Linked DNA regions of Homo sapiens. The protein of the gene in region 1 purifies or fractionates together with the protein of each later gene. This does not show direct contact. Each region holds a gene or a part of one and is shown in the gene's direction. Other genes may lie near its edges. The genes, in order: ABCA2, ADCY3, PDZD8, ABCB9, IGSF3, PEX11B and SNX14.

Evidence for each region.
Region 2: the proteins of ABCA2 (region 1) and ADCY3 purify together in Homo sapiens (affinity purification with mass spectrometry; one large-scale study listed by BioGRID and IntAct). This does not show direct contact.
Region 3: the proteins of ABCA2 (region 1) and PDZD8 purify together in Homo sapiens (affinity purification with mass spectrometry; one large-scale study listed by BioGRID and IntAct). This does not show direct contact.
Region 4: the proteins of ABCA2 (region 1) and ABCB9 purify together in Homo sapiens (affinity purification with mass spectrometry; one large-scale study listed by BioGRID and IntAct). This does not show direct contact.
Region 5: the proteins of ABCA2 (region 1) and IGSF3 fractionate together in Homo sapiens (co-fractionation; one large-scale study listed by BioGRID). This does not show direct contact.
Region 6: the proteins of ABCA2 (region 1) and PEX11B purify together in Homo sapiens (affinity purification with mass spectrometry; one large-scale study listed by BioGRID and IntAct). This does not show direct contact.
Region 7: the proteins of ABCA2 (region 1) and SNX14 purify together in Homo sapiens (affinity purification with mass spectrometry; one large-scale study listed by BioGRID and IntAct). This does not show direct contact.

The regions. Positions count from the first base shown.
Region 1 is NC_000009.12:137,014,727-137,018,513, reverse strand, and holds part of ABCA2 (ATP-binding cassette sub-family A member 2), read left to right. Parts: intron 1-162; coding exon 163-336; intron 337-438; coding exon 439-541; intron 542-612; coding exon 613-727; intron 728-821; coding exon 822-1,012; intron 1,013-1,167; coding exon 1,168-1,318; intron 1,319-1,389; coding exon 1,390-1,594; intron 1,595-1,775; coding exon 1,776-1,940; intron 1,941-2,042; coding exon 2,043-2,223; intron 2,224-2,339; coding exon 2,340-2,552; intron 2,553-2,642; coding exon 2,643-2,839; intron 2,840-2,917; coding exon 2,918-3,100; intron 3,101-3,416; coding exon 3,417-3,601; intron 3,602-3,703; coding exon 3,704-3,787. UniProt on the Homo sapiens protein: Probable lipid transporter that modulates cholesterol sequestration in the late endosome/lysosome by regulating the intracellular sphingolipid metabolism, in turn participates in cholesterol homeostasis.
Region 2 is NC_000002.12:24,917,424-24,921,753, reverse strand, and holds the start of ADCY3 (adenylate cyclase type 3), read left to right. Parts: upstream 1-1,516; 5' UTR 1,517-2,071; intron 2,072-2,168; exon of another isoform or gene 2,169-2,280; intron 2,281-2,569; 5' UTR 2,570-2,766; coding exon 2,767-3,441; intron 3,442-4,330.
Region 3 is NC_000010.11:117,291,856-117,295,642, reverse strand, and holds part of PDZD8 (PDZ domain-containing protein 8), read left to right. Parts: exon of another isoform or gene 1-2,179; intron 2,180-3,787. UniProt on the Homo sapiens protein: Molecular tethering protein that connects endoplasmic reticulum and mitochondria membranes. PDZD8-dependent endoplasmic reticulum-mitochondria membrane tethering is essential for endoplasmic reticulum-mitochondria Ca(2+) transfer.
Region 4 is NC_000012.12:122,945,685-122,949,471, reverse strand, and holds part of ABCB9 (ABC-type oligopeptide transporter ABCB9), read left to right. Parts: intron 1-642; coding exon 643-848; intron 849-3,249; coding exon 3,250-3,447; intron 3,448-3,787. UniProt on the Homo sapiens protein: ATP-dependent low-affinity peptide transporter which translocates a broad spectrum of peptides from the cytosol to the lysosomal lumen for degradation.
Region 5 is NC_000001.11:116,657,629-116,661,415, reverse strand, and holds part of IGSF3 (immunoglobulin superfamily member 3 isoform 2 precursor), read left to right. Parts: intron 1-3,787.
Region 6 is NC_000001.11:145,915,765-145,920,010, reverse strand, and holds the start of PEX11B (peroxisomal membrane protein 11B), read left to right. Parts: upstream 1-1,293; 5' UTR 1,294-1,322; coding exon 1,323-1,378; intron 1,379-1,481; exon of another isoform or gene 1,482-1,565; coding exon of another isoform or gene 1,566-1,579; exon of another isoform or gene 1,580-2,056; intron 2,057-2,194; coding exon 2,195-2,310; intron 2,311-2,992; coding exon 2,993-3,194; intron 3,195-4,246. UniProt on the Homo sapiens protein: Involved in peroxisomal proliferation. May regulate peroxisome division by recruiting the dynamin-related GTPase DNM1L to the peroxisomal membrane. Promotes membrane protrusion and elongation on the peroxisomal surface.
Region 7 is NC_000006.12:85,510,072-85,513,858, reverse strand, and holds part of SNX14 (sorting nexin-14), read left to right. Parts: coding exon 1-59; intron 60-3,787. UniProt on the Homo sapiens protein: Plays a role in maintaining normal neuronal excitability and synaptic transmission. May be involved in several stages of intracellular trafficking. Required for autophagosome clearance, possibly by mediating the fusion of lysosomes with autophagosomes.

The DNA.
Region 1 (3,787 bases):
ACCTTTCCCCTGGGGCCCCCACCCCAGCCCTGTCCCACCTTTCCCTGGACCCTCCTGTCCCCGCCCCCACACCTTGGCCCCGCCCCCGTGCCTTGCTTTCCCCCCCACCACGCCTTGGTCCCGCCCCTGCATCTTGGCCCCGCCCCAACCTCCCGGCCCCAGGTGTGATCTTCCAGACCCGGAAGGACGGCTCGCTCCCGCCTCACGTGCACTACAAGATCCGCCAGAACTCCAGCTTCACCGAGAAAACCAACGAGATCCGCCGCGCCTACTGGCGGCCTGGGCCCAATACTGGCGGCCGCTTCTACTTCCTCTACGGCTTCGTCTGGATCCAGGGTGAGGAGCAGGCCCGGAAGACCGGCTGGAGGATTCATGGGGGAGGACAGGTGTGAGGACGAGAGGGCCTGCCCGGCACCTGATGGCTGCCCCCACCCACAGACATGATGGAGCGCGCCATCATCGACACTTTTGTGGGGCACGATGTGGTGGAGCCAGGCAGCTACGTGCAGATGTTCCCCTACCCCTGCTACACACGCGATGAGTGAGTGCTGGGCGCCCGGGGCTGGGGCTGGGGCTGGGGCTGAGTGGCGCCTGAGCGCGGCCTCCCCGCAGCTTCCTGTTTGTCATTGAGCACATGATGCCGCTGTGCATGGTGATCTCCTGGGTCTACTCCGTGGCCATGACCATCCAGCACATCGTGGCGGAGAAGGAGCACCGGCTCAAGGAGGTGCGCGGGCCGGGACTCTCCCTGGAGGCGCGGGCTGGCAGGGAGGGGCGGCGTCCTCCCCGGGGCCTGCCCCAAGCCCCTGGCCCACCCGCAGGTGATGAAGACCATGGGCCTGAACAACGCGGTGCACTGGGTGGCCTGGTTCATCACCGGCTTTGTGCAGCTGTCCATCTCCGTGACAGCACTCACCGCCATCCTGAAGTACGGCCAGGTGCTTATGCACAGCCACGTGGTCATCATCTGGCTCTTCCTGGCAGTCTACGCGGTGGCCACCATCATGTTCTGGTGAGCGCGGGCCATGGTAGGAGGGACCTGGGGCAGGCACTTGCCCAGCAAGCTCACCCCACATCCTCTCAGAGCCCCCTGGACCCTGGCACGGGCCTGCCCAGGAGGCCGGGCGTGCGGGTGGATGACGGTGCGCGTGGCCCCTGCCCACCCAGCTTCCTGGTGTCTGTGCTGTACTCCAAGGCCAAGCTGGCCTCGGCCTGCGGTGGCATCATCTACTTCCTGAGCTACGTGCCCTACATGTACGTGGCGATCCGAGAGGAGGTGGCGCATGATAAGATCACGGCCTTCGAGAAGTGCATCGCGGTGAGGGTCGCGGGCAGGCGGGCGGCTGGGGTGCCGGGCCACCCCACGTGCTGACACCACTGCCTTCTCAGTCCCTCATGTCCACGACGGCCTTTGGTCTGGGCTCTAAGTACTTCGCGCTGTATGAGGTGGCCGGCGTGGGCATCCAGTGGCACACCTTCAGCCAGTCCCCGGTGGAGGGGGACGACTTCAACTTGCTCCTGGCTGTCACCATGCTGATGGTGGACGCCGTGGTCTATGGCATCCTCACGTGGTACATTGAGGCTGTGCACCCAGGTACTGGCCAGCCCTTGGAGGGCAGGGGAGAGGCAGGGGTCCCCAGCCAGGGTTGGGGACCAGCAGTCTGTGTCCACTCCTGGATGCAGCACGGGTGGCTCCCTGGGTGGGCACGTGGCCCACGTGGTGGATGGTCACCCCAGGCCCTAGGTCAGCCTCCCCTCCCCTCCCCGACCCCCAGGCATGTACGGGCTGCCCCGGCCCTGGTACTTCCCACTGCAGAAGTCCTACTGGCTGGGCAGTGGGCGGACAGAAGCCTGGGAGTGGAGCTGGCCGTGGGCACGCACCCCCCGCCTCAGTGTCATGGAGGAGGACCAGGCCTGTGCCATGGAGAGCCGGCGCTTTGGTGAGGCTGGCATCAGAATGGTGGCTGGGGTGGGCGCTGGGTTCAGAGTCCTGGGTGGCCTTGGCGCCGCCCCCACCCTGCTGATCCACAGCCCTGGTGCAGAGGAGACCCGTGGCATGGAGGAGGAGCCCACCCACCTGCCTCTGGTTGTCTGCGTGGACAAACTCACCAAGGTCTACAAGGACGACAAGAAGCTGGCCCTGAACAAGCTGAGCCTGAACCTCTACGAGAACCAGGTGGTCTCCTTCTTGGGCCACAACGGGGCGGGCAAGACCACCACCATGTGAGTGTCGGAGGGGCAGGGCGGTGGGCATCTGCTGACCAGAGCAGGAGTCCTAGTCAGGGCAGGGTGGGGCCCCTGCAGAGGGCGTGGGGTCATGACCCCGCCCACCTACCCAGGTCCATCCTGACCGGCCTGTTCCCTCCAACGTCGGGTTCCGCCACCATCTACGGGCACGACATCCGCACGGAGATGGATGAGATCCGCAAGAACCTGGGCATGTGCCCGCAGCACAATGTGCTCTTTGACCGGCTCACGGTGGAGGAACACCTCTGGTTCTACTCACGGCTCAAGAGCATGGCTCAGGAGGAGATCCGCAGAGAGATGGACAAGTGGGTGGGCTGGGCGGGGGGCGGGGCAGGTGGGCGGAGGCCCTGGGGCTCTGCATAGCAGCAGCCCCATGCCCCACCTCCCTGTCCCAGGATGATCGAGGACCTGGAGCTCTCCAACAAACGGCACTCACTGGTGCAGACATTGTCGGGTGGCATGAAGCGCAAGCTGTCCGTGGCCATCGCCTTCGTGGGCGGCTCTCGCGCCATCATCCTGGACGAGCCCACGGCGGGCGTGGACCCCTACGCGCGCCGCGCCATCTGGGACCTCATCCTGAAGTACAAGCCAGGTGAGTGGGGTGCCGTGTGGGCAGGGGTGCGGGCGGCGCCTCCCCTGCCCCCTGACCCTGGGTCTGGCCTTGTCCTAGGCCGCACCATCCTTCTGTCCACCCACCACATGGATGAGGCTGACCTGCTTGGGGACCGCATTGCCATCATCTCCCATGGGAAGCTCAAGTGCTGCGGCTCCCCGCTCTTCCTCAAGGGCACCTATGGCGACGGGTACCGCCTCACGCTGGTCAAGCGGCCCGCCGAGCCGGGGGGCCCCCAAGGTCTGTGTTGAAGCTGCCTGAGCTGGCTTCGGGCCACCTTCTCCCCGGGACCCCCACCTGAGAATCCACAATGGAGAGGCTGGGCCCTCACCGTCACCCGCTGGGCCCAGGATGCCTGCTGGGGCCTGGCCCGCCCTCTGCAACGCCCGTATCTTGGAGAGGCTGGGTCCTCAGCGTCACCCCCTGGGCCCAGGATACCTGCTGGGGCCTGGTTCTTCCTCTCCAATGCCCATATCTTGACCCAGTTGGGTTCCCATTGGGGGTCCCTCCTCCCAGCCCCTGAGTGAATTCCTTCCTGCTCCCACGTCCCCCACAGAGCCAGGGCTGGCATCCAGCCCCCCAGGTCGGGCCCCGCTGAGCAGCTGCTCCGAGCTCCAGGTGTCCCAGTTCATCCGCAAGCATGTGGCCTCCTGCCTGCTGGTCTCAGACACAAGCACGGAGCTCTCCTACATCCTGCCCAGCGAGGCCGCCAAGAAGGGGGCTTTCGAGCGCCTCTTCCAGGTGTGAGGGCGCACGGGTCGGGGGGCAGTTGCAGGTGGTGGAGGTGGGCGCACTCCTGCCTGGGCGTCCCTGCCGCAGCCTCCCCCTCCACCGCCCCTGCAGCACCTGGAGCGCAGCCTGGATGCACTGCACCTCAGCAGCTTCGGGCTGATGGACACGACCCTGGAGGAAGTGTTCCTCAAGGTG
Region 2 (4,330 bases), on another chromosome or scaffold:
TCCCTGTAATCCCAGCACTTTGGGAGGCTGAGGTGGGCGGATCACTTGAGGTCAGGAGTTCAAGACCAGCCTAGCCAACATAGTGAAACCCCATCTACTAAAAATACAAAAATTACCCCGGGCTTGGTGGTGTGTGCCTGCAATCCCAGGTATTCAGGAGGCTGAGGCAGGAGAATTGCGTGAACCTGGGTGGTGGAGGTTGCAGTGAGCTGAGATCACAACACTGCACTCCAGCCTGGGTGACAGAGTGAGACTCAGTCTCGAAAAAATAAAAAATAGAAATAAAATAAAACAATGGGGCAAAGTTTTGCTTTATTTAAATTACCAAACTCCTATATCTGATGTTAGGTCCCCTACCTTTGGAATCAAAGCCCTGCGAAGTATGGGCTGAAGGTGGCGCCTTTTCAGACAGAGTGTGAGGGAACGGTAGAAACAGCAGTGGCAGGATCGATTCTCTAATGGATCCATTCCCCGAGGGATGCAAGGTGATGCCTGAGGTTCTGGAAGGGGTGCCCGCGGATAACTCTCAGGGGCATGGGGTGGCAGCTCCATCCAGGGTCTGGATAGCCAAGTTTCTCTCCCCTCTGTTCATTCCTTCAGCTCTCCCCAGGGGAGATGACCCCCTATTGCTGCTGGCTGTCCTCAGCACTTACCTTCCCACACATGCTTTTGTCCCTTTTGTCCCAAAACATTCTATCTCTTTCCTCTTCCTTTATTTAAATTCCCAAAGCCTGTAGTTGATCTTAGCACGGTGTTCTGTCAAATGCAAGGAAAATAATTTATACTATGGTGTAAGAGACTGATAGGTTTAACTATTCAAAGGAGCATTCGCATCTTTAAGGGACAGTTTGTGAACTCAAACACATCTCAAACGGGTAGAATGTGCACGGGAAATCTCTTCGAAGCAGGGTCTCAGGAACTCTTCCAGTTCCACGTGTGTAGTGCCCACCGGGCCACCGCCACCCGCCTCCTGGGAGCAGGACAGGGCTCCGCTGCCGAGCCCCTCTGCGGAAAGCTCAGGCCCGGCGCTCCGGAGTCTGGGCTCCCGGGGTGGGCGGGGATACTTAGGCCCCACGTGCCCCGCGGCGGAGCGGTCCCCAAACCTGAGCCCTGGCCTCTGCCGGCCCGGAAGGAAGCCGCGGCGGAGGAGGGGGCGGCGGGGTGCCCCGAGCGCGCCTCACCTGCGGGCGGGCGCGTCCCGGGCTTCCATCCTCCTAGACCGGGCCTCCTCGCTGGAAGGGGTGGATTCGCCCCAGCCCTGCCGCCCACCGCCCACCGCCCACGCCCGCGCCCGCGCCCGCGCTTCCACGCAGCCATCGCCCCAGCCCGCCGCCCGCGCCGGATCGGGGGCCGCCCGGGCCCCTCCACCTCTCGCCCGCGCGGGTCCTGGGACCGCCGCCCGGCGCCTCCCTCGCCGCCCCACTCCGGAACGCGCCGCCGAGAGGGCGGAGACTGGGGCGAGGGAGGGGCCGCCCCGCCCGCCTCCCGCCTCCCGCCTCCCGCCTCCCGGGGCCTGGAGCGCGCGTGGCCCCGGAGCCGCCGGCGCCGCGCGGGGAATAGCTGTGCAGCACGCCGAGCCCGGACTCGGCTGGCTCGGCTCGGCGCGGGCGGGCGAGAGGATGCTGGCGGGCTTCCCCGGGCTCGGCCCGCGCTCCCGCCGGGGAGGGCCCCGCGCGCGCCCCTAGCAGCCGCCGCCGCCGCGGGTGCAGGGGAGGGGTCCGGAGAGCCGCGCTCGCCGCCGCCCGCGCCTGCCGGCCCCCGCACGGCCCCTGCCCCTGAGCCTCAGCCCCAGGGCGGGCGCGCTGGGCCGGCGCCCACGGATCTCCCAGCCCTCGTCGCCGCCTCCTCCTTCCCCCTGCGGCCGGGCGCCCGCGGATGCTGAGGGGCAGCCCTGCGCCTCTCCCGGTCGGATCCCGGGCCTGACGGCGGGAGATCGCGCTCCGGCCGGGCCCCGAGGCGCTGCCGGGGCGGCGCGGCTCTGCGGGGAGCAGCCCTCGGGCGCGCCGAGCTCTCCCGCCCCAGCCCGCGCGGGGACCGTCCCGGAGCACGCGGTGGCCGAGTTCCCGCACAGGTAAACGCAGGGGCAGGGCCAGGCTTCCGGGGGGGAAGACAGCGCCCCGAGCGTGGGAAGGGGGCCGGATCGGAGCCCGAGCCTCCAAGGGTTTGGTGGAAAAAGGAAGTAAACAGAAGGAAGGCTCAGGAATCCCCCACGATGGTCCTGATTTCTTTCCGGCACATTTTATTTACAGCTTCTAAGGACTGGGCCTGGAGGGAATTTAGGTGAGGAAGTCGGGGACTGAGAAAGAAGAGATGACAGAGAGAAACCGGTTACCAGGGATGGAAAGGCGGCTAGGCCCTTCCACAAGCCAGGGACAGGAAATTGAGTGTCTGGCGTGGACAGGACTAAGTGTGCCTGCGGTGGGCGGTGGTGTGAGCCGGGGGTGGCAGGGAAGGCCCTGGGTTGGGAGGCTCTTGCAGCAGAGATCCTTTTATGAGGGTTAGGGCGGGTCATGGGGAAACCGCAAGGTAGGAGGGAAGAGGTGCTTCTACTCAGCAATGCCCTTTTCAGTTCTAGCTGATCAGTGCTACCTGTGCTCTGGAAACCCGCTCTGCGTTCCTGCTGGAGGTGGCCTCCCCTCCGCCCCAGACAAGAAGAGGCCCTCAGCCCTCCCCCGGTCTCAGAGAGCCCTGAGAGGAGGCCCAGTCCAGAGCTCTTCCTCCGTTCCCAGTCCACTTCTCTAGGGCCAGTAGCAGACACCAGCCAGTATGCCGAGGAACCAGGGCTTCTCCGAGCCCGAATACTCGGCCGAGTACTCAGCCGAGTACTCCGTCAGCCTGCCCTCCGACCCTGACCGCGGGGTGGGCCGGACCCATGAAATCTCGGTCCGGAACTCGGGCTCCTGCCTGTGCCTGCCTCGCTTCATGCGGCTGACTTTCGTGCCGGAGTCCTTGGAGAACCTCTACCAGACCTACTTCAAAAGGCAGCGCCACGAGACCCTGCTGGTGCTGGTGGTCTTTGCAGCCCTCTTTGACTGCTACGTGGTGGTCATGTGTGCTGTGGTCTTCTCCAGCGACAAGCTGGCTTCCCTCGCCGTGGCTGGAATTGGACTGGTGTTGGACATCATCCTCTTCGTGCTCTGCAAAAAGGGGCTGCTCCCGGACCGGGTCACCCGCAGAGTGCTGCCCTACGTGCTGTGGCTGCTCATAACCGCCCAGATCTTCTCCTACCTGGGCCTGAACTTCGCGCGTGCCCACGCGGCTAGTGACACGGTGGGCTGGCAGGTCTTCTTTGTCTTCTCCTTCTTCATCACGCTGCCCCTCAGCCTCAGCCCCATCGTGATCATCTCCGTGGTCTCCTGTGTGGTGCACACGTTGGTCCTGGGGGTCACCGTGGCCCAGCAGCAGCAGGAGGAGCTCAAGGGGATGCAGCTGCTGCGGGAGGTGAGTCCTGCCCACTGTCCCCCCACAGCGTCCTCTCCTGCAGCTCTCACCAACTTGGGACCTGTTGGAGTTGCTGTTTGCTTTGCCTTTGAGTCAAAATGTGTCCTGGGGGCCTCCGGGGCTCTCACCTCTCTCCCTAGTCCCTGCCTTTTCACCCCTGTGCCATTACCCGGAGTCTGCCTGTGCTTGGCCCCAGGGAAAGGAGGATGTCAGGGCATTGGGCCTCAGGGCCACTCTTCACCTGTGCCCAGTCTAAGTGTGTGACAGGAAGGCCCACCCAGGGCTGGTCTTGAGGCAGCATTGTCCTGGCCATTCCCTGTCAGTGACCCTGGCAAGGAGGACCTCCCTTGGGAAGAGGGCTCCTTGATTCCCATCTCTCCCCAGCACTGACTAGCTGTGTGGACTCAGTGCCCCTTTGTCAAATGGGGATAACGTCCGCTCTGCCTGCATGACACGGTTGTTGTCAGGATTGCAGGAGATGTGGGGGAAAGCGCATTAGGATACGTGAAGGGCTGCACAGAGGGAAGACGCAGTTGTCATATTTCCTGCCTCCGGGAGCTCGGGGTGCCTGGGGAGTTCTATGAAGTGGAGAATGGTGGTCTCCCCACTGAAGGTGTGGTGTGGGGATGCAAATGGGGACAGTCATGCCGGCCACTGTGACGTAGGGTCTCCTGGTCCTAAAGCACGCATTCTGCTGGTCCTGGAGCACGCTTTCTACTGGAAGGGGTGGAATTTCGGCCTCAGCTTAACTATTATAGTATTGTGTTCCCACCAAGTGCCAGGCCCTCAGGGGCTGCAGAGACCAGGGGACCTGAGGGACAGTAGGCAGTGTGTGTCCCTGGGGAGCCAGCAAGCCGGTGACCAGAGAATGAGGCGGAGATGTCTGCAT
Region 3 (3,787 bases), on another chromosome or scaffold:
AAATTTTGTATCTTTTTGAACATTAGAGAGATTAGTCTATACTTCTGTTTTCTTGTTTTATGTTTGCCTTGTTTTATTTTTTCTTTCAGAATTCACCGATGAAGCAACCTAGCTCCCAACTGGGAGGGAGTTTTTTGTGTGTTGGGAAGGAAGGCTTATAATTATGAATTTAATGTATATAATTGATATAACCATGTACACTTTAAAAGAATGTATTTTGCCATTGTTGAGTATAATGTTCTATAAGTGTCAGTTAAATCAAGGTTGATGATGTTGAGGTTGCCTGTGCCTCCACTTCTTTTTTCTAGTTATATTGGTTGCTGAGAGGATGAAGAAACCAAGTTTTACCTCTAACAGCAGCTTTAGTAAAGTTACATTGCAAAGAGACATGCTTATAAGAATAGGAGGAATTTGTTACCATGTTTTATGGTCTACCACTGAGTTCATTTTCAGTCTTTTTTGGGTTTTGTTGGTGGTGGTGGGTTTTTTTTGTTTTTGAGGCAGGGTCTAGCTCTGTTGCCCAGGCTGGACTGTAGTGGTGCAGTCATGGCTCAATGCAACCTCCACCTTCCCAGCTCAAGTGATCAAATCAGGATAACTAGCATAGCCATCACCGCAAACATTTCTTTGTGGTGAAAATATTAAAAATAATCTCTTCCAGCTATTTTGGAATATACAATACATTATTAACTATAGTTACCCTATTGTGCAATAGAACATCAGAACTTATACCTCCTAACTGTAACTTTTTATAGCCACTTCTGATCTCCCCACTCCCCCTATTCTCCCCAGCCTCTGGTAACCACTCTTCTACGTCTATTTCTATGAGATCAAGTTTTTTAGATTCCACATATGAGTGAGATCATACAGTATTTGTCCTTCTCTGCCTGGCTTATTTCACTTAACATAATGTCCTCTGGGTTCATCCATGTTGTCATAAATGACTTTTCTCTGGGGTTTTGTTTTTTGTGGCTGAATAGTATTCCACTGTGTTTGTATACCGCACATTTTTTATCCATTTATCCATTGATGGACTCTTAGGTTGATTCCATAGCTTGGCTCTTGTGAATAGTACTGCAGTAATCAAGGAAGTGCAAGTATATCTTCATCATACCAATTTCATTTTCTTTGACTATATACCCAATAGTGGGATTATTGGATCATTGCTAGTTCTATTTTTAAATTTTTGAGGAACCACTGTACTGTTTTTCATAATAGCTGTAACTAATCTACTTTCCCACTAACAGTGTATAGGAGTTCCTCTTCTTCCACATCCTTGTCAATATTTGTTTTTTTGTTTTTTTTTTTTTTTTTTGTCTTTTTGGTAATAGCCATTTATTTGGTAATATGTGTCTTCTCTCTTGTTTCTTGATCAGTTTAGCCTATAGGCTTACCAGTTTTATTGGTCATTTTATTGAGTCAGCTTTTATTGATTTCTCTATTATTTAAGTATCTGTTCCATTGGTTTCTGTTCTTTATTATTTCTTTGCTTCTACTTTGGGGTTTAATTTCTTAAAATGGGGACTTAGGTCACTAATTTTAGATTTTCCCCCCTATATAAGCATTTAAAACTATAAATTTCCTCTAAAACACTACTTTAGTTGCATCCCACAAATTCTGATTGGTTGCATTTTCATCATTTCATTTGAAATATTTTTGGATTTCTCTTGTGATTTTTCTTTAACTCATGAATTATTTAGAAGTGTGTTGTTTTGCTCTCCAGATATTTGGGGTTTTCCTAGTTACTAATTTGTAATTTAATTCCACTATGGTCAGAAAACATGCTTTGTAAGAGTTCTGTCTTTTTAAAATTACTGATATTTGTTTCATGACCTTCTACATCCTGGTGAACTTACCATGTACACTTGAAAAGAATGTATTTTGCCATTGTTGAGTATAATGTTCTATAAGTGTCAGTTAAATCAAGGTTGATGATGTTGAGGTTGCCTGTGCCTCCACTTATTTTTTTCTAGTTATATTGGTTGCTGAGAGAGGGATGAAGAAACCAAGTTATACCTCTAGCAGCAGCTTTAGTAAAGTTACATTGCAAAGAGATATGCTTATAAGGATAGGAGGAATTTGTTACCATGTTTTATGGTCTACCACTGAGTTGATTTTACTGTTCTCTGTACTTTTGTATATATTGGAAATTTTCTGTAATAAAATCTTAAAAGCCAAACCCTCTCAGGTGATATTATATTCCAGGGAATGCATGTTGAAGCCACAGCATGCTTCACCATGTACAGGAAAAATATTTAGGGTTTCTATTTATGTTTGTTTTTTACATTGTCATTTTAAAAGTTCTATTTTGGCATATGTTTTATAGTGCCAGGCATATCCAATAGTCATAAATAATTTTAAGATATAGATGCATACATATGGGAGAGAATTATATATTATATATCATTGTACTATTCTGGTTTTAAAATAGTAGTTTTACCCTAGTGGAAAATCAGTTTTGTTCCAAAAGTTGTGTATCATTGCATGGTCTTGAACCTTATCTTAAATTTTATATTAAAATAACAATGTTTTTGTGAAATACTCATTTTAAAATGCTTTGTTTCACCAGGCTTTTAATTAAGAGGTGTTTTTATATTCTGAAACTTCTGAATCATGTCAGAACTTAATTAAGGTGATGATTTTCATTTCAGGGAATGCTGAAATTAAAATCTAAAATTAGGTCAGTGGGGTGCAGGCTTAAAAGGAAACAAAAACCAGCTTGTAAAAGAAACAGTGTCTTATGTTCTGTTCCCTGTACATACTTGAAATTAAGAGTATTTACTAATAATCAGTAAAAATTGGGGAGAAAGTGAGGTAATGTAATATTGGCCCTAATTATTGCTACTGAAAACCTTATCTTTTTTTTTTTTTGCATCTGGAATGTTTACTTCAGGTATCATTTGAATTAAGAAAAGCAAAGGGAAAGATATGATTTATAGATAGAAAATAAATTAAGAAACTAAATTACACTAACACCTTACACTAGCCTCTATTCACTTCCTAATCCTACCCCCTGAATCTCCATTCTACTTTTAAAAGCAGAGTAAATAACAAAAAAAAAAAACACATTCCAAATGCAGGTGTTAATTTTTAAACTTTACAGTACTCAGACTTACACTGTTTAGGTTTTCTACCCATTTGCTATCATTAGCTTCCTGCAATTAGAAAAACTTACATTCTAAATTTCAGCTTTGGCAATCTGTATATTAAGAATATATTTATGTTCCTGGATTTGAGAGAATATGTTGTTAAGGGTTTTGTTAAAAGCCTTAATTGTGTACAGCACTTTACATTGTAAGGTGATTAATTGCTGTGTCATAAGGCAGGGATTGGACAAATGTCTTAGGAGATTTAAACACAAATTACGTGTTTTGGCGGGGCTTTGTGTTTTGTAAACCTTTAGGTAATTCAGAATTTGACCACATATCCCATTTCTTGAGCACAGTATGATTAAGATTTTCCTTAAAATAACTTTACAAAATTTGTTAACACCCAAATTAAAGAGCAACTTCCAGTGAGGGTTCTTTTACCAGCGAATATCATTAGGTAGGAAAATTGAATTTCTGTCCAAGTGGGATTTATATATTAAAGCAGTGCAGCCAGTGATATATTTGGATATTAGGGTATTTGGCAAAGTCCCTCATGAGATATCCTTGAAGAATAGGACTTAAGAAATGTGGACTGGAGAATAATACAATTAGACTGATTTGTAATTGAGCGCCATAAACACTAATTGAATCCTTGTCAACAGCTGGGATGTAGCACTCTGCCTGTTTTTTTTTTTTAA
Region 4 (3,787 bases), on another chromosome or scaffold:
AGAGACCCTGCTCCCATGGGGGTCAGCAGGTGAGGGCCAGGGGCCACAACGGGGAAGACGATAGAATATCCACCAAGATCCAAGCTCTGAGAGACACCGGCCTGGGTCGAAGCCCTGGTTCCTCCACTCACGAACTTCACCTCTCTGATCCTCTGTTTTCTTGTCTGTAAAATGGGAACACGGATAGTAGCCACCCCATGGGGTCCTTACACAGCTCTTAGCACAATGTCCAACTTAGGTAAGAAGTGTCTGCGCTTTCCTGCCCGCCACCAGCCAGGTTGTTATTTCCCTAGAAGGGAAGAGGAGTTACCCCCTCTGCCAGTGACAGGGAGGAGACATGGGTTTGAAGTCTGGCTCAGTCACGGACAGGCTGTGTGACTCTACGGGGGCCTTCCTGTTCTGAGCCCCAGCCTCCTCCGCTGTACAGCGGGATGTCATGAAGCTTAAGCAAGATGCTGATGACTGGGATTGGCTCAGAGTAGCCCTCGAGGGGTATCTGCTCTTCTCCCCCACCCCCCAACCCCGCCCACAGGTAGGGAGGCCCGGCTTCCCAGTGTCTGTCTCAGAGGCCCCTTAGCATCCCCCACCGCCACCCCCAAGGCCCGGGTTGCTGTGGTGAGAGCTGAGCCGCGTGTGTTCCAGGGGACCTCATCTCCCGCCTGACCTCGGACACCACCATGGTCAGCGACCTGGTCTCCCAGAACATCAATGTCTTCCTGCGGAACACAGTCAAGGTCACGGGCGTGGTGGTCTTCATGTTCAGCCTCTCATGGCAGCTCTCCTTGGTCACCTTCATGGGCTTCCCCATCATCATGATGGTGTCCAACATCTACGGCAAGTACTACAAGGTAGGCCTGCCCTGTCTCTGCTGGGGACTGTGCACCCTGGCAGCCCCCAAACATCCCCTTAGGAGGGGCTCAGGGGGCCACTAAGGGCTAGTGAAGGACAGGTCTTGAGGCTGTGTTTGCATTCATTCATTCATTTCTTCGCTCATTCAATAAATAATTATTGACCACCTGCTATGTCCCAGGCACTGGGATACATCAGTGAAAAAGACAAGGCCCCTGCCTTCCTGGAACTTGTATCTAGTGTCAGAGACAGATACTAGGTACCAACAGCATAAAGAATGAGAATCCACAATACAGTAAAAGATGGTCAGTGCTAAGGAGAAACATGAAGTGAGCAGAGGGATTGGGAGCATTGGGTGTAGCTGCAATTTTAAATTGGATTTACTGGCTGGGCCCGGTGGCTCATGCCTGTAATCCCAGAACTTTGGGAGGCACAGGCAGGAGGACCACTTGAGCCTAGGAGTTCGAGACAAGATTGGACAATATAGCAAGACCCCATCTCTACAAAAAAAAATTTTTTTTAGTTAGCTGGGCTTGGTGGCGCATGCCTGTGGTCCCAGCTACCTGGGATGCTGAGGTGGAGGATCGCCTGAGCCCAGGAGGTCGAGGCTGTAGTGAGCAATGATCGTGCCACTATACTCTAGCCTGGGTGACACAGCAAGACCCTGTCTCTAAAATGAATGAATAAATACAAGTTAAATAGGTCTTGCTGAGAAGGGGACATCTGAATAAGGGTCTGAAGGAGGCGGGCATCTTGGGAGGTATGTGCTGAGCAGAGGGCACAGCCAGTGAAAAGGCCCTGGGTTGGAACGTGCCTGGTGTGTATGTGGGGGTGGTGCGGGCCCGCTGTGATGCCATCGCGGGCCCGCTGTGATGCCATCATGGGCAGGCTGCTGTCCCCTCTGGCCACCCCACGGCACTGCTTCTGCTTCCGAGCTAGGGCCGTGAGCCAGGTTTGACCTCACCCTCCTCCTGCTTCCTGAATGGGCGGGTGCCCCCGAGCCCTAAGGGACAGACAGGCTGGGTTCAGACAGGCAGGGCTGTGACCCTGTGACAGGTACAGGCAACCCCCTCACAGTCACCCAGGCCCACGTGGGGTACTTCTAGAGCAGGGGCTTGGATGCATGACGGCCTCCAGGTGGTGCCGGGTAAGTCATTGTCGCAGCTCCATTGGAGCCTTTGGTGTTGGTGACCTGAGACCAGGGTAGCAAAGGAAGCCATCTCCCACCCAGCCCCCGGTGAGGCCACTCCCCACAGTCTTCTCCAGCCACACAGGTAGGACCTCTTCCCGAAGTTCCTGGTCACGAGCCTCCCCACCGTCCTCACTGAGATGAGAAAGTAAATCTATTCTTTAGAGTCTGAGCCATTTCTGGCACGCTGCTCCCCACCCCTTGCTTCCGGCCTTCCCACCAGCCCCTGGGATGGAGCAAGAAACCCTGGAGCTCCCCCTCAGCCCCCACCTCTGTGTGCACTGCAGGCCCTGCCTTTTAGTTCAGCTAAGGGAGGCCTCAGGAAGGCTCTGTTTGGGTTTTCCACCCCATGCCTGAATGTGTTGTGTGTAGCCAGCGAGTCATCTCCACAAACCACACACACCGCCCATGGCCAAACATGACTCAGGCACCCTGCATGCTTCCTGCGGCTGGGGCGTGACACATGGTCATGGGACATGCCAGTGCATGCTCCTGTCCTGGACTCTCAGGCAGCCTTCCTGGCTGGCTTGAGAATCAGCATAGTGACTCCTGCAAAGTGTGAACAGCTCCACCCAGGGGCCTCTTCCAGGACTCTGGTGAACAGCAGCCTGATGGCCGCACACTTGGGACCACTTTTCAGCTCTGCCTGTGGTGACATGCACATGGTGTGGGCAGATTTCACAACCCATGGCCCCTGCCACCATGTAGAACTTGGCTGGGAGTTCTGGAATCTCTTTATCAACCCTCAGGCTCTAACATAATTTATGTTGATGATGTAAATGGTGCCCCTTTAATAGTTGGTGTTTCTTAAATAGTGTACAACCTGAACAACCGTCCAAGGCATCCCCTGCTCTTCCAGCACAGGGTCAGGTGTTGAGGCCCCTTTTCTGAAAGGATTACCAAAAACTGTCCAGTCATGAATAGCCTCTTTTGAATACTGGGGATGACTTAACGATCAGCACCGTGCCCTATCCTTCAGGAGCTGAAACCATTGCCCCAAGAGCCTCTCTGGAGTTGACTACCTGAGTGTGTCAAATTGAGCCAGAAGGGGATGGGGGAGAAAGGGCTAGATCTTGTCTTTTTGTCCTAGGAACCTCTTGCATATAGCTGGTGCCAGCGAAGGGTGGAAAAACCCAGAGAGGCCTGGGGGCTCCAGTACATAGTGAGGCTGTTTTGGGGTCTTCTCCTTCTTGTCCCCCTCCTGTCCATAGAGGCTCTCCAAAGAGGTCCAGAATGCCCTGGCCAGAGCGAGCAACACGGCGGAGGAGACCATCAGTGCCATGAAGACTGTCCGGAGCTTCGCCAATGAGGAGGAGGAGGCAGAGGTGTACCTGCGGAAGCTGCAGCAGGTGTACAAGCTGAACAGGAAGGAGGCAGCTGCCTACATGTACTACGTCTGGGGCAGCGGGGTACGTGCCCCTGGCCAGGCAGCTCTGGCTGTGGAGGGATGGGATGCAAAGATGGGGGAAGCCCTCGATCTAGGACATCAGTCCTGCATGTTGGTGTCAAGCTGGTGGAGAATCTGTCTGTCTTTCTTTTTTTTTTTTTTTTTTTTTGAGACAGAGCCTCACTCTGTCACCCAGGCTGGAGTGCAGTGGCACCATCTCAGCTCACTGCAACCTCCGCCTCCTGGGTTCAAGCGATTCTCCTGCCTCAGCCTCCTGCATAGCTGGGACCACAGGCGCCCGCCACCATGCCTGGCTAATTTTTGTATTTTTGGTAGAGACGGGGTTTCACTATCTTGGCCAG
Region 5 (3,787 bases), on another chromosome or scaffold:
TTACATAGCATGACCTTCTGTATAAAATTCTTGAAGACCATCTGTCATGTTCATTACTGTAGTCCCAGAACTCAGCCTTGTGCCATGCAAAGTAAGCAGGTGTTCAGTTATTTTATTTTTTTTGAGATGGAGTCTCACACTGTTGCTCAGGCTGGAGTGCAGTGGCACGATCTTGGCTCACCGTAACCTCCGCCTGCTGGGTTCACGCGATTCTCCTGCCTCAGCCTCCCGAGTAGCTGGGATTACAGGCACACACCACCACACCCGGCTAATTTTTTTGTATTTTTAGTAGAGATGGGCCTTCACTATGTTGGCCACACTGGTCTCAAACTCCTGACCTCGTGATCCGCCTGCCTTGGCCTCCCAAAATGCTGAAATTACAGGCGTGAGCTACCACACCTGGCCCAGTTAATTTTTTGATGAGTGAATGGTTTCACAAGGTAGGTGTTGTTTCTGTGTTGGCTTCCTTGATCAAGATAAGGAAATTCATGACACTTTTCCCTTGAAAACAATTATGTTCAAAGGAAAAGAGCTGGAATTTGGCAGAATCTGAATTTGAATTCACATTTGTCTGATTATAGAGCTTCTTAACCTTTTTTGTGTTATGGATCCTTTTGGCAGTCTGGTGAAGCCTATAGACCCCATCTGAGCATAACATTTTAAAATGCATACGTGGCCGGGTATGGTGGCTTACGCCTGTAATCCCAGCACTTTGGGAGGCCAAGGTGGGTGGATCACCTGAGGTCAGGAGTTTGAGACCAGCCTGGCCAATTAGCTGGGCGTGATGGTGTGTGCCTGTAATCCCAGCACCTCGGAAGGCTGAGGCAGGAAAATCCCTTGAACCTGGAGGTTGCCATGAGCTGAGATTGCGCCACTGCACTGCAGACTGGGCCACAGAGCAAGACTCTGTCTCAAAAAAAAAAAAAAAAAAAAAAAGAAAAGCATACATAGGCCAGGTGTGGTGGCTCACTGCTGTAATCCTAGCACTTTGGGAGGCAGAAGCAGGGAGATCACTTGAGCTCAGCAGTTCAAGACCAGCTAGGCAACATAGTGAGACCGCATCTCTATCTACAGTTTCCTGCAGAGATCGAAGTAAAGTTCAGTGTAGGTGGTTGTTGCTGGGGAAGACACTCAGGAAGAGGACATGGGCTGAGTGTTCAGAAATGGTCAGGATTTGATGGGGAGGGCATTCTACTCCCAATTAAGTCCTGATAATGCAAAGGCCTCAGCAGGCCTTTTACAGATTGGAGAAATGACTGTCAGTGGTTTTAAGGACCAGTTCAGGTGGGATGATGCTGGACACAGAAAATTGGTTTGAATTATAATGAGTTTGGGATTTAGGCTTAAAGTAAGTCCCCAGAGCCCAGGCCACTGCTGCTGAGCCCCAGCCTGGGAACTGGAGGAAGCAGTCCCAGTTGCTGACCTCTCGTGGTCCCTGGCTTTGGGTGTGCAGTGCATCCTTAGTTATGACTCCTTGATTAATATTTTTAGCTTCTGGCCGGGCATGGTGGCTCATGCCGATAATCCTAGCACTTTGGGAGGCTGAGGCAGGAGGATCACTTGAGCTCAGGAGTTTGAGACCAACCAGCCTGGGCAATATAACAAGACCTCATCTTACTAAAAATCAAAAACATTAGCTGGGCATGGTGGTACACACCTGTAGTCTCAGCTGCTTCAGAAGTTGAGGTGGGAAGAATTGGTTGAGCCCAGAAGGTTGAGGCTACAGTGAGCTGTAATTGCACTACTGCACTCTAGCCTGGGTGGCCCCCATCTCACACACACACAAAAAGAGCGAGACCCCGTCTCAAAAAAAAAAAGGGAGTTCCTCATTTGCCATGAGTGGACACCTGCTTCTTTACTGCTTCAAAGTGAACACAGCTATTCCTTGTAAAGGGTTGGTTTTTACTTTAAGGAAATCTAGAACACCTGTGTGTGAATGCCCCCTGATTTTCAAAGAAATGAGTGGTTGCATCAAAATCAAGCTTATATTTGTGGAAAATCACATGTTGCCAAATTCTCTCATCAAGAACCCTTTATTAACTGACTAATTGTGGGCCATGGTGGCAGGCACTTAACAAAGACCATGGCAGCAGACCTCCCTCAACTGGAACCCTCAGTTAAGTGGGATTTTGTTTTTATTTTTGAACTCCACCTTCAGAAGGGCAAAAATCACAAGATGTGGTAGCAAGGGTTTATTCTAGAAATTAGCTTCCAAGCAGTCGTCAGCCCAGTCTGTATGTCTTCCGCATCTATAATTATAGTAGCAGAAGAGAATGGTGAGCCTGGGGCACTGCAAGATCCTAAATCAAAGATTAAGGCATATTAACTCTACCCTGCCTGGAAAGTGGTCAGTTGTATTTTAAAAAGCTTTACAATAGGCTTTCTAATAACGAGAGTTGAAGCAAAGTTTCCACCTAACCCTGTAATTAAATTCACCAGAAGACCCCATTTCCCATTATCCAGACGACCAAGGCTTTGCCGAACACCACCCGTCCCTGCCCTCTAGGAGAGGTCATCCAAGGCCAGCAATGAAACAGTCAATCAATTTGCAAATGGACAGGAGGACACTGACAGGATGTGTTCACTGAGGGTAGGTGTCTACTGGGGGAGAGAGGCCAGGCAAGTCTGTCCTTGTTTTCAGTTTAGCAGGAGGAGTGAAGGGGAGGCCAGAGTAACTCCTGAGTGGTCAATCTGGAAAGGCCTTTTGGAAGGGCTGGAATTTTAGGCATTTTTCTTAAGTAAGAGGAGAGTGACGTCCTGTTGGAATTGTGGGGTAGAGGATATTCTGGGCACTTCTAAAGGGGTGGAGAAACCTGAATGTCCTGGGATGGGAACCCTAAGGGTGTAGATTTGTAAAAATTGCTGCAGTCAGTTGCCATGAGGACTGGGTATCTGGGCTAGAGACAGGTGGGCGACATCAGAAAGCTGTGAGTGGATATCCTGGAAGACCACTGAGAGGAGGAGCCAGGAATGGCACCAGACATTTCTGAAGGTGGGGGGCCCAGAGGTCGAAGCAAAGGGGGGCCTGTTTCTGTACCAAAGCAAGAGCTTCTGTATATCCATCAAAACATAATCAGGCCAGGCGTGGTGGCTCATGCCTGTAATTCCAGCACTTTGGGAGGCCGAGGCGGGTGGATCGCTTGAGGTCAAGAGTTCAAGACCAGCCTGACCAACATGGTGAAACCCCATCTCTACTAAAAACACAAAAAAGCCAGATGTGGTAGCGGGTGCCTGTAATCCTGGCTACTTGGGAGGCTGAGGCAGGAGAATCTCTTGAACCTGGGAGGCGGAGTTTGCGATGAGCCGAGATTGCACCATTGCACTCCAGCCAGGGCAACAAAAGCAAACAAAACAAAACAAAACAAAAAACTCCATTTCAAAAAAAAAAAAACCATAATCAGAGCAAAGACATTCTAACAAAACTGTGAACTCGGAGAAATGAGTAATGCCTGCTTCCCGTCAACTTTCAGGTGTCCAGGCCTTCTCTTTATTAAAACAGAAAAAAAAATCTGATACCAGTTGTGTGTTCTTTCTTTGATGTAGTGCAGTTTGCCCAGGCTTGCCTTAAGTTGGTGCTATTTTTGTGTATTTAATTCTGTTTTTGCATGTGACCCATTGTCTGATGCTTCAGAATGCAGTCTGCGGCCTCCTTTTTGATAGCAACTCTGAGAACACTGTCTCTGCTCTCGGCAGGGCACTGGGTACACCTGTGGCATCGCTGGTGCCATGGCATGAGGCAGGCTTCCCACTTCACTTCTCAAGGACCCATTTTATTAACTCTCCTTCC
Region 6 (4,246 bases), on another chromosome or scaffold:
GAGGCTTACTCCCTGAGAATTAATGGCTAATGGCCCCCAAGCGCACCCTTTAACTCATGCTATGGACCCAAATCCCTGTCCTGCCCGGTCCTGAGTCCTAGGTCACTCACCTGGGGGAAGGCAAGCAGGAAACTAAGTCCCCAGGCTGCCCCCAGAAGTTTCCTTACACCTGAACGGGATCCAAGCGGGTTGAGTACTGCTGCCTGGCGGTCCAATCCAATGACCACAGGCAGGAAAGCTGCAGAATACGTGGCCATTAGTTTCAGGAACATCAGTGTCCGACATGCGATGTCCACAGCCAGCCATTGAACAGTGATATTCCAGGTGGCATCTAGGGGCATAACCACAAAAGTGACTAGTAAGTCGGCGGCTGCTAAATGGATGAAGAGTCTCCTGACCGGAGAGGGGCGGAGCTGGCTGGGTTCCCGCCGTGTCACTGACCACAGGACTGCCAGGTTCCCTCCAGCCGAAGAAACAAACAGCACAATGGTCACTCCCACTCGGACCTTGGCTGCTGCCGAGAAGGTGGGCAGCTCTGAGCCCTCCACCTCCACTCCTGATCCAGCCCAGACCTCCTCCCCCGCTGCTGACCCCAAGGGGTGCCGTTGCCTGCAGACATGGTGGCCTGGAGAGAAACTGAGGAGGATGAAGTGTGGGTATGAAGCGGTTAGCTTTGGCCACTGATTCTTCGCCCTCCTTTTCAGGATCTGGAGCTGATTATTGCGAATTTCGTTCACTAAAGCCTCTGCTTCTGGAGACTCTCCATCTGTTCTGGAGGAGGTCACTTGTTCAACTGTCAAGGTTCTGCAGGGAACGAAGATCTGGTACCAATCACGCTCCTTTTTCCTTGGACAGACCAGCCTGGGCTTCAGGCCTCTACTGACCTAGACCTCTTTAGCCCCTACAGCCCTGGATTCAGTCGGGGCCTGCGTGCATGTGTATTTGTGAGGTTCTGCCAGGCGCACACCTATGCCGGCGGCCTCCAAGACGTGGAGATCACTGCGGCGCTTTCTCGCCCCGCCCCGGCCCCTGCAGGCCCCGCCCTTGGTCATGAATATTTAAAGAAGAAGGTGCCGCTGGAGGCGTGCTAGGGAGTAGGGGTCGTCTGATAAGGGGAAGCTGTGACGCAGACACGCACAGTAATACACAGATGGAGGCTCAAAAGACACGAGTTTCGCGTCCTGAAATTCCGCTTCCAGGGCCAAGCTTTCTTTTCTGATACTGTTTGTCCCTCGCGAGGCACCGTTGGGTCGCGCAGTAGGCGTGACTAGGGGCGGGAAGTGGGGCGGGAGCAGGGCCGCGGAGCCTGGGCTGCGGCTGTCATGGACGCCTGGGTCCGCTTCAGTGCTCAGAGCCAAGCCCGGGAGCGGCTGTGTAGGTGCGGCCCGAATAGGAATGGGGGTGGGGCGGGGGAGGGATGGACAGAGGAAGACTCTAGTGAGGCGAAGTCAGTTTAGGCTACAGGGGGGTCAAGAAGGGTCAACTCCGGCTACGGGGGCCCGAACGGACCGTGAGGCGCAGATTTGAGCCGCTGTTGAGATGATTCCTTTCCGTTCGCGGAAGAGATGGGGAAACTGAGGCATGAGTGGGCCAGCGGGGAGGCCGCTCAGGGTTGCTGTGTCCACATAAGACCGACAGTGTCCTCACTGGGCGGTGATGGAATGAGGAGCATTCGCCCCACGGTGGATAGCCCCAGACTCTGCCCCCAGAGCTGAGGAGGCACTCCCAGTTTCCGTGTCCCCACACCGTGCTGCCATTCGGGAACTCCCCTGCCTCCGCCCTGGCGTTTGGTCTCCATTCAGCTAGAGGGCCTTGAAATCTCTCAGTTCACCTATTCTGAGGAATAAAATGCCCTCCAACTGTCTGCCTCCCCCTCATCGATCACGTACATGCTCACGCTGATGTGCTTGTGATGGACCCCTGCGGCCTGCACTGGCCCCTTCAGGCCTCATCATTGTCAAATCTCTAATTTGCTCAACATTCAATAGTGCTCCCCACCCCTTTCTAGACTCTTTTTTCTCCTTATGCCTTTCCCTTCCTCTGGCCTGGAGAAATGGTGAGATATGGGCATGGAGGAGGAAGGGGAGTGTTCTCAAACTGGGAAAGGGGGAAGTCTGTCTGTGCCTTTTGGAAGATAGTTTTGAGCGGAAGGTTAGGGAGGTCTCCACCTTACCTTGCCTGCCCTCTCCTCTAGGGCCGCCCAGTATGCTTGCTCTCTTCTTGGCCATGCGCTGCAGAGGCATGGAGCCAGTCCTGAGTTACAGAAACAGATTCGACAACTGGAGAGCCACCTGAGCCTTGGAAGAAAGCGTAAGTAACTCTGTCTTTCCTTTTATCCCCCAACCTTTCCTCCATCCCCAGCTCACCTTCCTTTGTCCCTCCTTCCTGTACCCTCTCTGTTCTTCTTTCTCATTTGGCTCTGCACTTACCCTCTGCATGAGTCCAGTTGAGATAAGAGAGCAGGGGTATGGAAGTAATTAGGCGGACTGGAGAGAATGGGTCAAGTTTGAGAAAACTAAACTGGCACAAAAATTAAATTTGAAATTGAAAAATGGACTGTTTCTGCTCTTTATTTTTTATTTTTTTGAGACAGAGTCTCTCGTCCAGGTCAGAGTGCAGTGGCGCAATCTTGGCTCACTGCAACCTCTGCCTCCCAGGTTCAAGCAATTCTCCTGTCTCAGCCTCCTGAGCAGCTGGGACTACAGGTGCCCACCACCATGCCGGGCTAATTTTTGTATTTTTAGTAGAGATGGGGTTACACCATGTTGGCCAGGCTGGTCTCAAACTCGTGACCTCAGGTGATCCACCCACCTCGGCCTCCCAAAATGTTGGGATTACAGGCTTGAGCCACCATGCCCAGCCTGTTTCTGCTCTTTAAAAAAATTGTCATTATTATTGCTCAACTTTTGCCCTCTTGCTTTCTCTGTTTCTGTTTCTTGTTATCTGCCTCTCCACTTACAAATCCTTGCTTTCCCTTTCTAATCTCCACAAGTTCTACGCCTGGGTAACTCAGCAGATGCCCTTGAGTCAGCCAAAAGAGCTGTTCACCTATCAGATGTTGTCCTGAGATTCTGCATCACTGTTAGTCACCTCAATCGAGCCTTGTACTTCGCCTGTGACAATGTCCTGTGGGCTGGAAAGTCTGGACTGGCTCCCCGTGTGGATCAGGAGAAGTGGGCCCAGCGTTCATTCAGGTTTGATATCCTGTTCTCCTTTAAGATTTTTTTTTGTAGCCTCTATATTGCATAGCTTGTCTTATATGAGGGAAAGATATCTTAGGATCTTTCCAGAGTATATAAGTCTTGATCAGTCACTTGGCTTCCAATCACTTAGATCTTAAACTATCGGAGAATATCAAATGGGGAGAGATGGAAGACAGATGCTCTTCCATAATGAATGACTAATATTGTGCAAGGTAAGATATTATATCACTTTAATTGTGCTTCTATACCACAGGTTATTCCCCCTCACTACCTGCTTACTCATTCATTCCAAAGATATTTATTAGATGCTTACTGTGGCGCAGGGGATAAAGCAAAGAGCTAAACAGATAATGTGCCTGCTCCCATGAAGCTTCTAGTTTAGTGAGGGAGTTAGATACTACAATGAATAACTTCTCATATATATTTGTGGAAAAGTATGCGGTATTATGAAAGAATATCACAAGGGGAGCTAATTTAGATTGGAAAATCAGGAAAAAACTCTTTGAGAAAGTAATATTTTAGCTCAGACCTGATGTCTGAGTAGGAGGAGTTAGACAAAGCCAACAGTAGCAGAAAAGACATTTCCAAACAGAGAAAATTGCACATTCTAAGTAAGGCTTTGAACTAAGAAAGACTTAAGGGAATTAGAGAAATAGAAAGAAAGCCAGTGTGATTGACAGTATTGAGTCCATCAGTTCAAATTTGAGAGATAGACAGGCACCAGATCTTTCATACAGGGCCTTTTAGGCAATGTTAATGTTTGTTTTATTTTATCCTACAATGGGACATTATTGAAGGATTCTGAGCAGGGAAATGACATGATTCAAATTGTGTTTAAAGGACATCTCTTTTTGAGATGTTGAAAATGGATTGCAGGCCGGGCGCAGTGGCTCACGCCTGTAATCCCAGCACTTTGGGAGGCCGAGGTTGGGGGGATCACGAGGTCAGGACTTCAAGACCAGCCTGGCCAACGTGGCAAAACCCCGTCTCTACTAAAATTACAAAAATTAGCCAGGTGTGGTGGCGGGCACCTGTAATCCCAG
Region 7 (3,787 bases), on another chromosome or scaffold:
CCAAGATAAGCAAAAAGGAGCAAAACAGACTTTTGAAGAAATGATGAATTACATTCCAGGTGTAATATTTAAGAAGTAACTTAATTTCATATAGATTAGCAGTCCGTTGAGGTCACAATGTATAGTAATTATTGAAGCTAATTTTTTACTGTGAGTTTTCATTTTACAAATAGTTGCAAAGATCAGTTAAAATTAACACACTAGTTAAATAATTCTTTCAGATGTTAGCACTAAGACTAAGATATTAGGACTTTAAGGCAAGGCTGTTTCTACTCACATAATAGCCAGATTCATTCAAAAATAACTTATAGTCAGACTGGTCAAAGTGACATGTGGGACAATTGAAGGCCTGTGTCCACGACACCATAAGAATAGCTCACTAGTGTGTATGATAAAAGATCAGAATTCATTCATTCCAAATTTATTGAGCACCTTCCATATTCCAGGCACTATGCAAAATGCAAGGCATATAAAAAATGCACTTGAGTAGGTCAGTCTAGCAGGAAGACAGGCATATAGACAAAACATACATGTGATAATAGAGGCATTTTCAAGTTACAGAGATATCACAAAGGAGGAGGATGGTCACCTCCTCTGTAAAGTTGGTAGGTTTGGGCCACTAAGGAAATGAGTGGTAGTAACCTCTTAACTGTGACGGGAAATAACAAGGAAGAAATGTCAAGGGATCAAAGCAGGTGATTCTTAGTTTAGAACATTTTGAATGAGAAGTGCCTATAAATTACTCAGGAGGAAGTGTCTGTTAAACACTTAGACACCGAGGTTCAAAAGTTGGAGAAAAGGTGGTATAGGATAGATTAGTAGAGATATGGGAGCCATGTGTGAGTAGATACTAAAGCATAGGGAGAAAGTATGGAGTAAGAAGAGAAAAGGGTGACTTCCAGTTTCTGGTCTGGCACATAAGAACCTGGCCATCATCACTCCATCCTAGTAACAAGCAAAAACCTGAATGAACTAAAAAAACTAAACAACTCTTAGATTCACCAGAGAGTGAGGTCATACGGCAAGCCACTGCCCCCCAAGGTTGGAGAGAATCATAGCTAGCTGCAGCAGAAACCCGTGAACTCAAAACCCCTGGAGAAGCCAGTGCTGAGCTAGGGAAACCTGAACTATAACTGACAAATTGCTACAGCCTTTTAAATCTCTTTTTAAGAGATTAAAAACTCCAGGGGAACCAAGTCATGGGGTTACCCATCCACATTTTTTTTTTTTTTTTTTTGAGACAGAGCCCCACTGTGTCACCAAGGCTGGAGTGAAATGACACGATCTCTGCTCACTGCAACCTCCGCCTCCTGGGTTCAAGCAATTCTACTGTCTCAGCCTCCCGAGTAGCTGGGACTACAGTCCTGCACCACCACGCCTGGCTAATTTTTGTATTTTTAGTGGAGATGGGGTTTCCCCTTGTTGGTCAGGCTGGTCTCGAACTCCTGACCTCAGGTGATCCACCCGCCTCGGCCTTCAAAAGTGCTGGGGTTACAGGCGTGAGCCACCGTGCCCAGCCCATCCACACTTTTTTTGTGAGTTTTACCTCCAGGGCCTTGACCAAGATCCCACAGTGAATATTGGAGAAAAATCCCCATGTGCTTCTGGCAAGGGGGCCAGAAGGGAACCATTTTGAAATACATCAGTCAGGGCATTCTGTTCTTGACAAGGCCCTACCCTCAGTAGAAAGTGACCAGAGCCTGACTGACCTGATGGAAGGGAAAGAACCAACTCTAGCCAGCCCTGGCCTTCCACATGGAAGAAGGGAAATACCCAACTCCAATACACTCTAGCCATCTTGTCCTGTGCAAGGGGGTCAGGGGGGCCTGAGAAGCATGTGTGAAGTTCACAGTTCAGTGGTACAAGCTCACTAAAAGATTGAGACCCCCTCCTAGGACTATAGAACCCTTCCTCTCCCTCCATATTTTATCACCACATTACTAAAGGCCTGTTTGCAGCAGTTCCTCTTAACTTGTGTGTCATGTCCAGTTATCAAGAAAAAAATTACAAGACATATTAAAGGCAAGAAAAAACAGTTTGACGAGAAAGAGCAAGTATCAGAACCAGAGTCAGATATGGCAGGGATGTTAGAATTATACACCAAGTGGGATTTATCCCAGGTATTCAAGGCTGGTTCAGCATTCATTCAAAAGTCAATTAAGGTAGTCCATCATCACATCAGCAGGCTAAAGAAGAAAAATCATGATCATAGCAGTAGATGCAGAAAAAGCATTTGACAAAATCTAACACCCACTTATGATCTCAGCAAACTAGGAAGAGAGGGGAACATCCTCAACTTGATAAAGAATATCTACAAAAACACCTATAGCTAACATCACACTTGATGAAAAACTTAAAAGCTATCCCACTAAGATGAGGAACAAGGCATGCTCTCACTACTGCTTTCAACATTGTACTCGAAGTCCTAGTTAGTGCAGTAAGACAAGAAAAGGAAATAAAGAGCATAGTGATTGGGAAGAAAGAAATAAAACTGTCTTTGTTCACAGATGACATGATTGTCTATGTAGAATATCCAAAAATTGACAAAAATGCTCCTGGAAATAATAAGCAATTTTACCAGGGTGGTAGGATATAAGGTTAATACACAAAATTCAGTTACTTTTCGTGTATATCATCAGTGAGCAAGTGGTATTTGAAATTAAAAAAAATACTATTTGCATTAGCACCCCCAAAAGTGGAATACTTGGGTAGTAATCTAACAAAACATGCACAAGATTTATATGAGAAAAATTGTAAAACTTTAATTAAAGAAATCAAAGAACTAAATAAATGGAGAGAGATTTTATGTGGATAGAAATATTCTGTTTTCAAGATGTCCGTTCTTCTGAACTTCGTCTATAGATTCAATGCAGTCCCAATCCAAATCCCAGTAAGTTGTTTTGTGGGTATTGACAAACATTTTAAAGTTTATATGGAGAGGCAAAAAGACCCAGAATAGCCAACTCAATATTGATTGAGAACAACAAAGTCACAGGATTGACACTACCTTTCTTCAAGGCATACTATAAAGCTACAGTAATCAAGAAAGTGTGATATTAGCAAAAGAACAGACTTACAGCAACTGTTCTTATTAGCAAAGGAACAGTTTACAGCAAAACTGTAAAACTTAGAGGATAACATGGGAGAAAATGTAGATGACCTTCTGTTTGGCGATGACTTCTTAGTTGCAACACCAAAGGCATGAACCATAGACGAAATAATTGATAATCTTTACTTCATTAAAATTAAAAATTTTGCTTTGTGAAAGACACTATAAAGAATGAAAAGAGAAGCCACAGACTGGGAGAAAATATTTGCAAAAGACGTATCAGATAAAGGACTGTTACCAAAAATGTACAAAGAAATCCTGAAACTCAACAATAAGAACACAAACAACCTGATTTTAAAATTGGCCAAATATCTTGACACCTTACCAAAGAAGATTACACACAAGCATATGAAAAGATGTTCTACATCATATGTCATCAAGGAAATGCACATTTAAAACAATGAGATACCACCACACACCTGTTAGAATGGCCCAGATCCAGAACACCAACACCACCATTTGCTGGTGAACATGTGGAATTCTCATTCATTGCTGGTGGGCATGCAAAATGGTGTAGCCACTTTGGAAGACAGGTGAGCAGTTTCTTACAAAACTAAGCACACTCTTACCATGAGATCTGGCAATTATGTTTCTTGATATTTACCCAAAGCAGTTGAAAACATGTCCACCCAGAAACCTGCACATGAATGTTTATAGCAACTTCAGAATTGCCAAAAC